Linked DNA regions of Homo sapiens: region 2 is linked to region 1. Evidence: fine-mapped expression QTL. A gene starts in region 1. The other region holds a variant in brackets. All regions are shown on one strand. Distances are between the middles of the regions.

What was found. PIP is the estimated chance that this variant, and not a neighbour inherited with it, causes the effect.
Region 2: its variant is the best candidate, but not a certain one, in a credible set for the expression of DBN1 in monocytes (Schmiedel 2018, PIP 0.85).

The regions. Positions count from the first base shown.
Region 1 is chr5:177,470,793-177,476,158 of GRCh38, reverse strand. It overlaps DBN1 (drebrin 1), which reads left to right and starts at 2,525. Exons shown (of 15, transcript NM_001363541.2): 1 at 2,525-2,723. The coding sequence starts at 2,638. RefSeq lists silencers at 2,288-2,337, 2,348-2,727, 2,808-3,007, 3,038-3,407, 3,327-3,513 and enhancers at 2,662-3,163, 3,164-3,667, 5,238-5,366.
Region 2 is chr5:177,418,827-177,424,192 of GRCh38, reverse strand. No RefSeq gene overlaps it. Among named protein-coding and RNA genes, the nearest start is that of GRK6, 5.2 kb to the left of the region's middle. The variant T/G (reference allele first, on the strand shown) is at 3,175.

The DNA.
Region 1 (5,366 bases):
AGCCTCCATCCAGTCCCATTTTATTCTCACAACAGGTTATCAAAAGGAAACTCAGAGAGGGGAAGTGTTTCAGCCAAGGTCACACAGCAAAGGCCCAGTTTCTGGATCTCAGTCCTCCCTTGTCTCATCTTTTCCACTCTGGGGATCCAGAAGTCATTGGCCCAGCCTCCCGCTGTGTGTAGGGGGAGCTCATGCTCTGGGGGTGGGAGAGACCGACCTGTCAGTGACTTGAAGGGTGATCGGTTTGGGGGTGGCAGACACGAAGTCCTGGTAGGAGGAACCCACCAGCCTCCCACCCACCAAGGCTGAGTGTGTGGGCTTCAGGGGCAACAGCAGCTGAAAGGAGGCAGGTTCTCAGAGGACAGTGACCAGTGGCCACCCACTCCCACCAGTCAGGGCAACTGAGAACTATGGGTCCACTGAGTTTGGCAAGTTAGGGGTTACTGGTGACCTTGGCCAGAGCAGTGCCAGAGAAAATGCGGGGAGGAGGAGACAGAGGACAGATGTCTGTCTGCATCCTATAGAAATGAGGGGATGAAGATAACCTGGAAGGGTGACGGGTGCGGAGACCAGGGGAGTGGGCTCTAGGGCATGCCAGCAGGGAACACCCTTGCTTCCCTGAAAATAGGGAAAACTGAGTGCAGGGTGTATGGGAACTCTCTATACTATCTTTGTAACTTTTCTGTAAATCTAACACTGTTCTAAAATAGAAAGTTTATTTAAAAATGTTGATGGCAAGAGGTGAGAGTGGGCGTGGCTGGAGAGTTTGTAGGTGGCTGGTGGGGAGGCAGGAATTTGAGGAAGGAAGAGCTTAGATGCATTTAGGGCTTCTGTTTTTTGGATGCAAAATTGAGTGTGCAGGAGGCTGGGGGGTGAGGGGAGCGGGGGGGGCGAGGAGCTGTGAGCTAGGACAAATCAAAGGAAGCTGGAAGAGGCTGAGGCCACAGATGCTCATGGCCAGCCATCTGCTGCCCCTCCCCGGCTGCAGGGTCTCCCTCCTCACCAGAATCAGGCTCTTCATGCCTAAGGGTGGGGGATGGCTGAAGCTCTGTCCCTCCATGGCTCTCCCCACTTCCCTTCCCCACCATGTGTCACCCACTCCCTTAGGGATCCCCATGGCAGGCCAACCACACCTACTGGCCAGTTGGTCTAGGGCACAGGGCCTGGCTGTGTCCCTGCCTGGGTGCCTCACTCTAGTGGTGGCCATGGAGAAATTGCCATGGCCTGTGGTCCCTAGACATAGTGGGCACTGACTTCCCAAGGCAGGGGCCTGTGAGTATTTTGAGTTTTAAGAGGGTTCTCCCAACTCCAAAGCGCCAGGAACACTGCCACATAGGCAGCCCTGCTCTCCTTCTCTTGGCATAGCCAATTACCCAACGCAGAACTCGGAGGCCTGGCTAGAACCACCTCCTCCTCCGCGGTGCGGTTGGGACCAGGTGAAGTTTGCTCAGGGAGGTCGAGGTTGGAGGCTTTGTAGTGGTGGAAAAGGCTTCTAAGCGCTGTGGACGGTTTCAGGGTCCCAACCTAGCAAGGAACGGAGTTCTGGAAGGCCCTGGCATGGTGTCCACTCCCTTGCAGGGGGTACTTTTCTGAGGCCCCCTCCCGTTCTGTGCTTAGAGCTTTAGGAGATAAAGGTGCCAAGAGGCTGGCCCTGAGCGTCCTTGGAGGAGCCCTGCCGTGGGAGTCTGGGGTTAGATGCTGCTTCCGGAACTCTACTTGGGACTCCTCTGGGAGGCGTGAGGCTTGAGAGAGAATGCAAAGGATCTCCTAGCTGGCCCCATCTGAGAGGGCACAGGCGTGGAGGGGAGGAGAGGCCTGGAATGGAGGGATAATGAGCTGGGTAGGGGCTGAGAATGGCCTGGAATAAGTGGTCATGGAGCCGAGATGGGGGGCTGTGGTTGGGAATTGGGAACTGGGATCAGGATGAGACTGGGATGGGTTGGACTGAAGATGTGCCGTGACACATGTTGGGGGGGACACGTGCTAAGCATGGGGCTGAAGCTGGGATGGGAAAGCAACTGGGGTGGATTTGAGGGTGGGATGCAGATGACAGTGGATATGATGGGATAGACTAGGCAAGGACCTCTCAGGGAAAGGAGACGGGCCAGGGGTGGGGTGTTGTGTGAGCTGGGTTGGGATGAAAATGGGTTTAACATGAGGTGGGACGCACCAGGAATGGAGATCAATGAAGCAATGGGTGGGGCGGAACCGGATTGGGACGGGGGGTGGGCGGGGGGAGGTGGGGACGGGACTGGGTTCGGGGCTGGAAGGAGGGCTAGCGCCGAGGTTACGGACGGGGCAGGTGAGGGTTCGGGACGTGGGTGGGGCTGGCCCTGGAGCGGCGCGCAGGGGCGGTGGGTGAGGGGCGCCCGGGGCAGGCCGGGAAGGGGGGGCGGGCCTCCCCCTGGGCCGGGCCGGGGCGGCGCTAGGACCGAGCGAGCGGAGGGAGCGAGCCGGGCGGAGCCAGCGCCCCCCGCCCCCCGCCGGCCGGCTCCCCTCCCCCGGCCGCTGGCTCGCTCGGCTCGCGACGCTGCAGAGGCTCCGAGGCGGCGGCGGCGACTCCCTCTTTCCCTCCCTCCTCCTCCGTCCGCCCGTCCGTCCGCGCGTCTGTCCGTTCGGCCCGGTCCGGCCCGAAGCATGGCCGGCGTCAGCTTCAGCGGCCACCGCCTGGAGCTGCTGGCGGCTTACGAGGAGGTGATCCGAGAGGAGAGCGCGGCCGACTGGTGAGCCCCCCGCCCCCGCCCCCGGCCCCTTTGTCCCCGCGCCGCCGCCGCGCCTTTGTTTCTCTCCCGCCCCGCCGCCCCGCCGCCGGGAAGGGAGGGGGACCCCGAAATGGTGCAGCGGGCCGGGAGGGCCGGGAGGGGCTGCCTTTGTGCGCGCCGGGGGAGGGGCCGGCGGGCCAGGCGGGGCACTGCCGGGCCCCGAGCGCCCGGAGGCGGCCCAAGGCGCGCGGTGGGAGCGGCGGCCGGACGCGGCCCGGAGGCGCGGGGTCCCGATGTGGGGCCCGGGGCCGCGTGGCCCTGCGGGAGCCCATCCCCCACCCTACCCCCCGGGCCCGGGGGACAGGTGTGCACGGGGCGGCCAAGGGCACCTTCGCCACCTTCGAGCGGGCGAGGTCCGGGCGGGGACGGGGCGGGGACCGAGCTAGCGGAGCCAGCGCAGCCTGCCCGGCTCAGCCCGGCCCGGCCACAGCACAAAGGAAAGCGAGGGCGGGGGAGGAGCGGAGCGGGCTGGGGGCCGGGCGCCCCGCCCACCGGGGGGCCTCTCGGAGTGGGCCGCCCTCCCCCCGAAACCTGGGCTGGAGTGAGGTGGAAGGATGTTTGCTGCCACATGGCGACCGCGAAGTGACTCCCTTACCGCCGCGGGTCGCGGAGGAGGCAGGGGTGAGCTCTCCTCCCCTACCTGAAGGGGACTGCGGGGACTAGGCAGCTGGGCTGGGGGGCACCGAGCTGCCTAAGGGGCCAGCTGAGATCCCTGGGAGGAAGCCCTCTGGAGAACAAGTGTGGAGGGAGCCCCCAAAGACGGCTGAAGGGGTGAACAGATCCACCGGCCCCCAGCAAGGGGCACTCGGTCCCTGATGGGGGAGGAGCTGGGCCGCCCCTCACCCCGCCCCCCAGCTGTTGTCTCCCGCTGAGCTGGGGGAGGGGATGGACCACCTGCTCTGGGGCTGGCGGCCCAGGGTGGTGGAAAAAGGAAACCGAGGGGTTCCTCACAGCCCCATCCTGGAATCCTTTAACCCCCCCGTAATACTCTTCTTCTAGGGAAGGTGCCCATCTGGTTCCTAGGCCTCCTCTCCCTGCTGGCAGATGGGAACAGGTTCTTCTTGAGGAAACTGAGGCAAAGAGGAGGGCAGGTCTGAGGGACCCCGCTTGGGCTGGCCTCACCCGCACACTGGGAGGGCAGCCAGGTGGGGACTCTGACCTGGGGGCTTCTGGAGGAGAGGATGAGATGGCTGGGCATCCATGGCATGGTACTGCAGCACTGGCCAGCAGCCAGGCCTGGAGGGATGGACGCGAGAGACAAGCTCTCGTGTCCTGCAGGTCAGTCACAGGAGAGGCCGGCACAGGCTCAGCAGGCAGGCGGCCCACCCATTGTCCCAGCCCTGCCCCAGGGGGGCTGAGATCATGGGAGGAGCTCTGGGCAAGTGGCCGGCTTGGCCTGGTGAAGGAGCTGGCTTTGGGATAAGGCCCCGCCTGGGGAGAAGCACAGCTCACCCCAGAACACCTCCTTTGCCCTCCAGCCTGGAGGGGTGTTGTCTACCAACACCCCATTTTCTCCTAAAAGCAGAGCTCTGGTGGCCTATTGCCAAGGCCACACAACCCCTGTTGCCCCACATCCTGCTCAACACAGGCCTGCCCCCACCCACCCCAGCAGCATCCGTGTGGCCAAAGCGAGTTATTCATCACTGGTGTGCGTCAGCCCCCATCTGGGTTGTGTGTGGGACACACACAGATGCACACATGTACCCTCGCACATGCACACATTCGTTCACTAAGGGCCCAGATAACATTTTGAAAAAGGGGTGTGAGGATCACTTTCTACACAAGAGAATATGAATACCCCAGGGCCCAGCATGGAACCAGGGGTGCAGTGAGGTCTGAAGACTCAGAGGCAGACCCTGCACATAGGTCCAGAGGGAGGGGTGTCTTGGGTAAATTGCTGTCTGCCCCCCGACCCTTACCTTGCCTCCAATGGGGAGGGGTGGTTGGGGGAGTTCACTCCTAGGTGGCAGGGCCTCTGAAGTGCACCACTACTCTGGCACAGGGAGCAGGGGACCCAGGAAATGAGGTTGTGTGGTGGGAAGGGCCACTGTTGTCCTGGTTGTGATATGACTCACTGTGATCATACACAAGTTCCTGGTCCTCTTGGAAAGAAAAGGGATTGGGCCCAGCACTACCTCGGATACTGAAGGCCTTTCTAGCACCACCATCCTGAGAGTGATGGTCCTGCGGGGTCCACCTGCCCTCAGCCCCCGACTCCAGCTCACCCTCCACCCCAGCTCACCCCCCATCCCAGCTCACCCCAGGGTCTCTGGAACTGCCACATTCCAGCTCCCACCTCACGCTAGTTCAGTTTATCTGGCTAGATGGCTTTTGAGTTGGTGTCAATATCACACATACTTCTGGTATGCGGTGTGCTGGACCCCAGGACCCAGAGAGCAGGATGTGCTGATTGACTGAGTCAGCGTTCCTGCCTTCACCAGGCTTACAGCTGGGGGCAGTGTCTGTCTCCAGGAGTTGGAGCTGGTGAGATGTGTAGATGCCTGGTCGCCTACCCCATCCTGATTCCCTGTGGTTTCGCCAGCTTCCACCTGGTGCACCACCAGGCTCGGGGTGCCTCTGATGTGGTTGAGAAGCACTGGTCTT
Region 2 (5,366 bases), 52 kb after region 1:
ACAAGACATCAGGGGGATCATTTAGAATTCACTGTGGAGGCCGTGGAGGTTGGGGGAGGCAAGGAAGGCAGTCAAGCTAGGCCCTTCCTGGGGGAGGGGGATTCAGCAAGCCCCCCAGGCTGCCCCATCCATTCCTCATCTGCTTAGTTACTCAGAATTGGCTTCCTTGTCTGCAAGCCAAGTATCCTAAGACAGGTGAGAGACCTTTTAGAAGGAACTTTTAGAGAGAGGAATGATGGTGCCCTATGCTGGGGCAGTGGCCAGGACATGCAGACAGGTGGACAGATGGAGACCTGGCATGTAGCTGGCATGAACAGGACATGGCAATAGATAAGAGGTGAAGAGGAGATGTCACTCAGGAAATTTCGTTCCAGCTCTTTAAGCCATTTTCCACCTACAGCCAAAGTGATATTTTTAAAAGGGAAAATTGGCTAAGCATGGTGGCTCATGCCTGTAATCCCAGAACTTTGGGAGGCCAAGGCAGGCTGATCACCTGAGCTCAGGAGTTCGAGACCACCCTGGCCAACATGGTGAAACCCCATCTCTACTAAAATATAAAAAATTAGCCGGGCATGGTGGTGCGGGCCTGTAGTCCCAGCTACTCAGGAGGCTGAGGCATGAGAATCGCTTAAGCCCTGGAGGTGGAGGTTGCAGTGAGCCAAGATCATGCCAGTGCATTCCAGCTTGGGCAACAGAGCGAGACTCCATCTCAAAAATAAATAAATAAATAAGAGGGAAAATCTGCCACCAACCATCTGAGATGTGCACATCTAGGAATCTATCTTACAAATATCATTGCACTTAGTCGGGTGCTGTGGCTCACGCCTGTAATCCTAGCACCTTGGGAGGCCGAGGTGGGTGGATCACGAGGGAAGGAGTCTGAGAACAGCCTGGCCAACATGGCAAAACCTATCTCTACTAAAATTTAAAAAAATTCACCAGGTGTGGTGGCGGGTGCCTGTAATCCCAGCTACTTGAGAGGCTGAGGCAGGAGAATCGCTTGAACCTGGGAGACGGAGGTTGCAGTGAACTGAGATCGTGCCATTGCACTCTAGCCTGGGGGACAGAGTAAGACTCTGTCTCAAAAGAAACAAATATCGTTGCACTCAAGCAAAATAAGAAATGCTTAAGGCTGGTGGGGCCTGGTGGCTCACACCTGTAATCCCAATACTTTGGGAGGCAGAGGCGGGAGGATCACTTGAGACCAGGAGTTCAAGACCAGCCTGGCCAACATGGCAAAACCCCATGTCTACTAAAAGTCCAAAACTTAGCCAGGTGCAGAGGTTGCAGTGAGCGGAGATTGTGCCACTGCACTCCAGCGTGGATGACAGAGTGAGACTCTGTCTCAAAAAAAAAAAAAAAAAAAGAAATGTTTAAGGCTATTCATTGCAGCATTGTCCAAAAAGATGGATCATACTAATTGTCCTTAATAGAGACTGATTAAGTAAAATGTCCTTTCCTACCCAGGAATACGATGTAGCTATTTAAAAAAAAAGCGTGGAAGTGCTTGTATACTGATATAAACAATCTCCAAGATATATTGTTAAGTGGAAAAAATCAGGGTGCAGAACAGTGTGTAAGGCTTGCATAAGAAGTGTCTGGGCTGGGCACAGTGGCTCAGCCTGTAATCCCAGCACTTTGGGAGGCCGAGGCGGGCGGATCACCTGAGGTCAAGAGTTCAAGACCAGCCTGGCCAACATGGGGAAAGCCCATCTCTACTAAAAAACACAAAGATTAGCTGGGAATGGTAATCCTAGCTACTCAGGAGGCTGAGGCAGGAGAATTGGTTGAACCCAGGAGGTAGAGGTTGCAGTAAGCAGAGATGTTGCACTCCAGCCTGGGTGACAGAGTGAGACTCTGTCTCAAAAAAAAGGAAGGGTCTGGATAGATTAGGTTCTGCTGCAGTAACAAACAATCCCAAGTTTAAGTGACCTAAAGCAACAAAAGTTCATTTCCTGCATACACCACATGTCTAACACAGCTTGTTGGGTGGTGGGGTGGCACTACACATAGTAGTCACTCAGGGCCCCAGCGTAGTAGGGGCTTCATTGCAGTTTGTGCTTCTACAATGGCAGGTGGTGAAAGGAAATGGGAAATTTGGTAAATCATACAATAGTCCTTAAAGCTCGCACCCAAAAGTGACACAAGTCACTTCTGCTCACATTTCATTGGTCAAAGCAAACCACATGGCCACAAGTAGCTTTCAAGGGGTGGGGAGAAGGGCTGGCATGGTGGCTCATGCCTGTAATCCCTGCACTTTGGGAGGCCAAGGCTGGTGGATCACCTGAGGTCAGGAGTTTGAGACCAGACCGGCCAACATGGTGAAAACCTGTCTCTACTAAAAATACAAAAATTAGCCAGGCGTGGTGTTGTGCACCTGTAGTCCCAGCTACTTGGGAGGCTGGGGTGGGAGAATCGCTGGAACTCAGGAGGCAGAGGCTGCAGTGAGCCGAGATCGTTCCACTGCACTCCAGCCTGGGAGATAGAGTGAGACTCTGTCTCAATAAATAAATAAATAAATAAAGGAGTGGGGAGACACAACATTACTATGGCAGATTATATTTTCTAAAGATGAGTGTAACAATGCATTCCCATCCCATGGGCACCTCTGCAATGGAACCTTGCCACCCCCACAGCAAGAGATAGAGTTTAATTTCCCTCCCCTTGAATTTGGTCTGACCTTAATGACTCTCTTGTCATCGGTAGAATATGGTGGAAATGATGCAGAGTGAAGTCTGAGGCCAGGTCAGGAAAGGCCATATGGCCTGGCTGTCATAAAATGCCGGCTCCCCAGAACTGTCCTCTTGGGCTCTTTCCTCACAGTCAGCTGCTGCTGTGAGAAGCCCTAGCCAAATGGAGAGGCCACATGTGTGTGCTCTACTGTGGTTGACAATCCCAGCTGAGCCCAGGACGCTGGGATGATCCAGTCATCCCACCCCCAGCACCAGACATGTGAGTGAAGAAGCCTCCATATGATAATTCTAACCCCTGGCAATTTGAGTCACCCCCAGCCATGCAAGTATCCAGCTGAGGTCCCTGGCATCTTCCCTGCTGAGTCCTGCCTGAATTCCTGACCCACAGAATCCATGAGCATGATAAAACAGGCCACTAAGTTTGGAGTAGTTTATAATGCAGAAGCAGGTACCTGGCATCACTCCTATAGGCCTGGAAGGA[T/G]AAAAGAATTGGAAATGTTTGGTGAACAACACTAACAACCACCACAGACAGTTTTGCTTATATATATGTTGCCACCTTGGGAAGGCCACGTGAGGCAGCAGAAATGCTGCTTGCATCTGGGAAGGGGTAGTTAAATGGCTGGGGATGGGGGTGGGAGGGAGGTTTTTCACCTCCCTTTTTGCACCTTTAATCTTGCATTGTGTGACTGGATGGCCTGTCTTAAAAACAATCAGCCGGATCCTGTCACTCTTACTCAGAACTCTCCAGTGGCTGCCTGTGGTAGGCAACCTCTAAGGTACCCCTGCCACCACGGATCTCTGCTTCTTCCTGGTCCGTGGATCTCTGCTTCTTCCTGGTCCGTGGATCTCTGCTTCTTCCTGGTCCGTGGATCTCTGCTTCTTCCTGGTCCGTGGATCTCTGCTTCTTCCTGGTCCGTGGATCTCTGCTTCTTCCTGGTATTCACAGCCTTAAGATCCCCTTAAGTGTCAGGTGGACCTCCTGACTCACTTTTTTTTTTTTTGAGATGGAGTTTTGCTCTCCTTACCCAGGCTGGGGTGCAATGGCATGATCTCAGCTCACTGCAACCTCCACCTCCTGGGTTCATGCAATTCTCCTGCCTCAGCCTCCCGGGTAGCTGGAATTAAAGGCACTCACCACCACGCCTGGCTAATTTTTTGTATTTTTAGTAGAGACGGGGTTTCACCATGTGGCCAGGCTGGTCTCAAACTCCTGATCCGCCCGTCTCGGTCTCCCAAAGTGCTGGGATTACAGGTGTGAGCCACTACACCCGGCATTTTTTCTTTTTCTTTTTTTCTTTTTTTTTGTTTTTGAGATGGAGTCTCGCTCTGTGGAAGTCTCGCTCTGTTGCCAGGCTGGAGTACGGTGGCTTGATCTCCACTCACTGCAACCTCTGCCTCCCAGGTTCAAGCAATTCTCCTGCCTCAGCCTCCCGAGTAGCTGGGACTACAGGCGCGTGCCACTACGCCCAGTTAATTTTTGTAGAGATGGGGTTTCACCATGTTGGCCAGGCTGGTTTTGAACTCCTGACCTCAAGTGATCTGCCCATCTCTGCCTCCCAAAGTGCTGGGATTACAGGCGTGAGCCACCAGGCCTGGCCTGCCCCCGGCCTTTTCTTTTTTTCAGAGTCTCGCTCTGTCGCCCAGGCTGGAGTGCAGTGGTGCAATCTCGGCTCACTGCAAACTCCGCCTCCCGGGTTTAAGCAATTCTCCTGCCTCAGCCTCCGGAGTAGCTGGGATTACAGGCGCTGCCCACTACGCCTGGTTAATTTTTGTATTTTTAGTATAGATGAGGTTTCACCATGTTAGCCAGGCTGGTTTCAAACTCCTGACCTTGGGTGATCTGCCTGCTTCGGCTTCCCAAAGTGCTGGGATTTCAGGCGTGAGCCACTGGGCCGGGCCACGTTTTTTTTCCCTAAGAGACAGGGTCTTGCTCTGTCACTCAGGCTCGATCACAGCTTACTGCAGCCTCCACCTCCTGGGCCCAATCGATCAGCCTACATCAGCCTCCCGAGTAGCTGGGACTACATGCGCATGCCACCATACCCAACTAATTAATTTTTTTGTAGAGATAGGGTCTCCCTCTGTTGCCCAGGCTGGTCTCAAACTCCTGGCTCAAGCAATCCTCCCTCCCTGGCCTCCTAAAGTCTTGGGATTACAGGCATGAGCCATGGCACCCAGCTTGACTCACTTCCAATGGAAGGAATGCAGCCAAAGTGATGGAATGTCATTTCCAACATGAGATTACTAAAAGATTGTGGCTACCATCTTACGTAACTCCTCTTGCTCCCTCACTGGCTCAGTCTGAGAGAAACCACCTGTTAGGTTGTGAGATGGAGAGACCCTATGTGGCAGGCAACTGATGTCTCTAGCCAACAGCTTTGTAAGTGAACTTGGAAGTGGATCCTTCCCCCGGCAGCCTCAGCTGACCCTCCGATGCAGCCTTGTGAGAGATGCTGATCCAGTGGCACTCAGTTAAAAAGTGCCGGGTTCCTGACCCATAGAAACTGTGACCCATAAATATCTTTTTTAAAAAGAGTTTATGGCCGGGAGTGGTGGCTCACACCTGTAATCCCAGCACTTTGGGACGCCAAGGTGGGTGGATCACCTGAGGTCAGGAGTTCAAGACCAGCCTGACCAATATAGAGAAACCCCATCTCTACTAAAAATACAAAA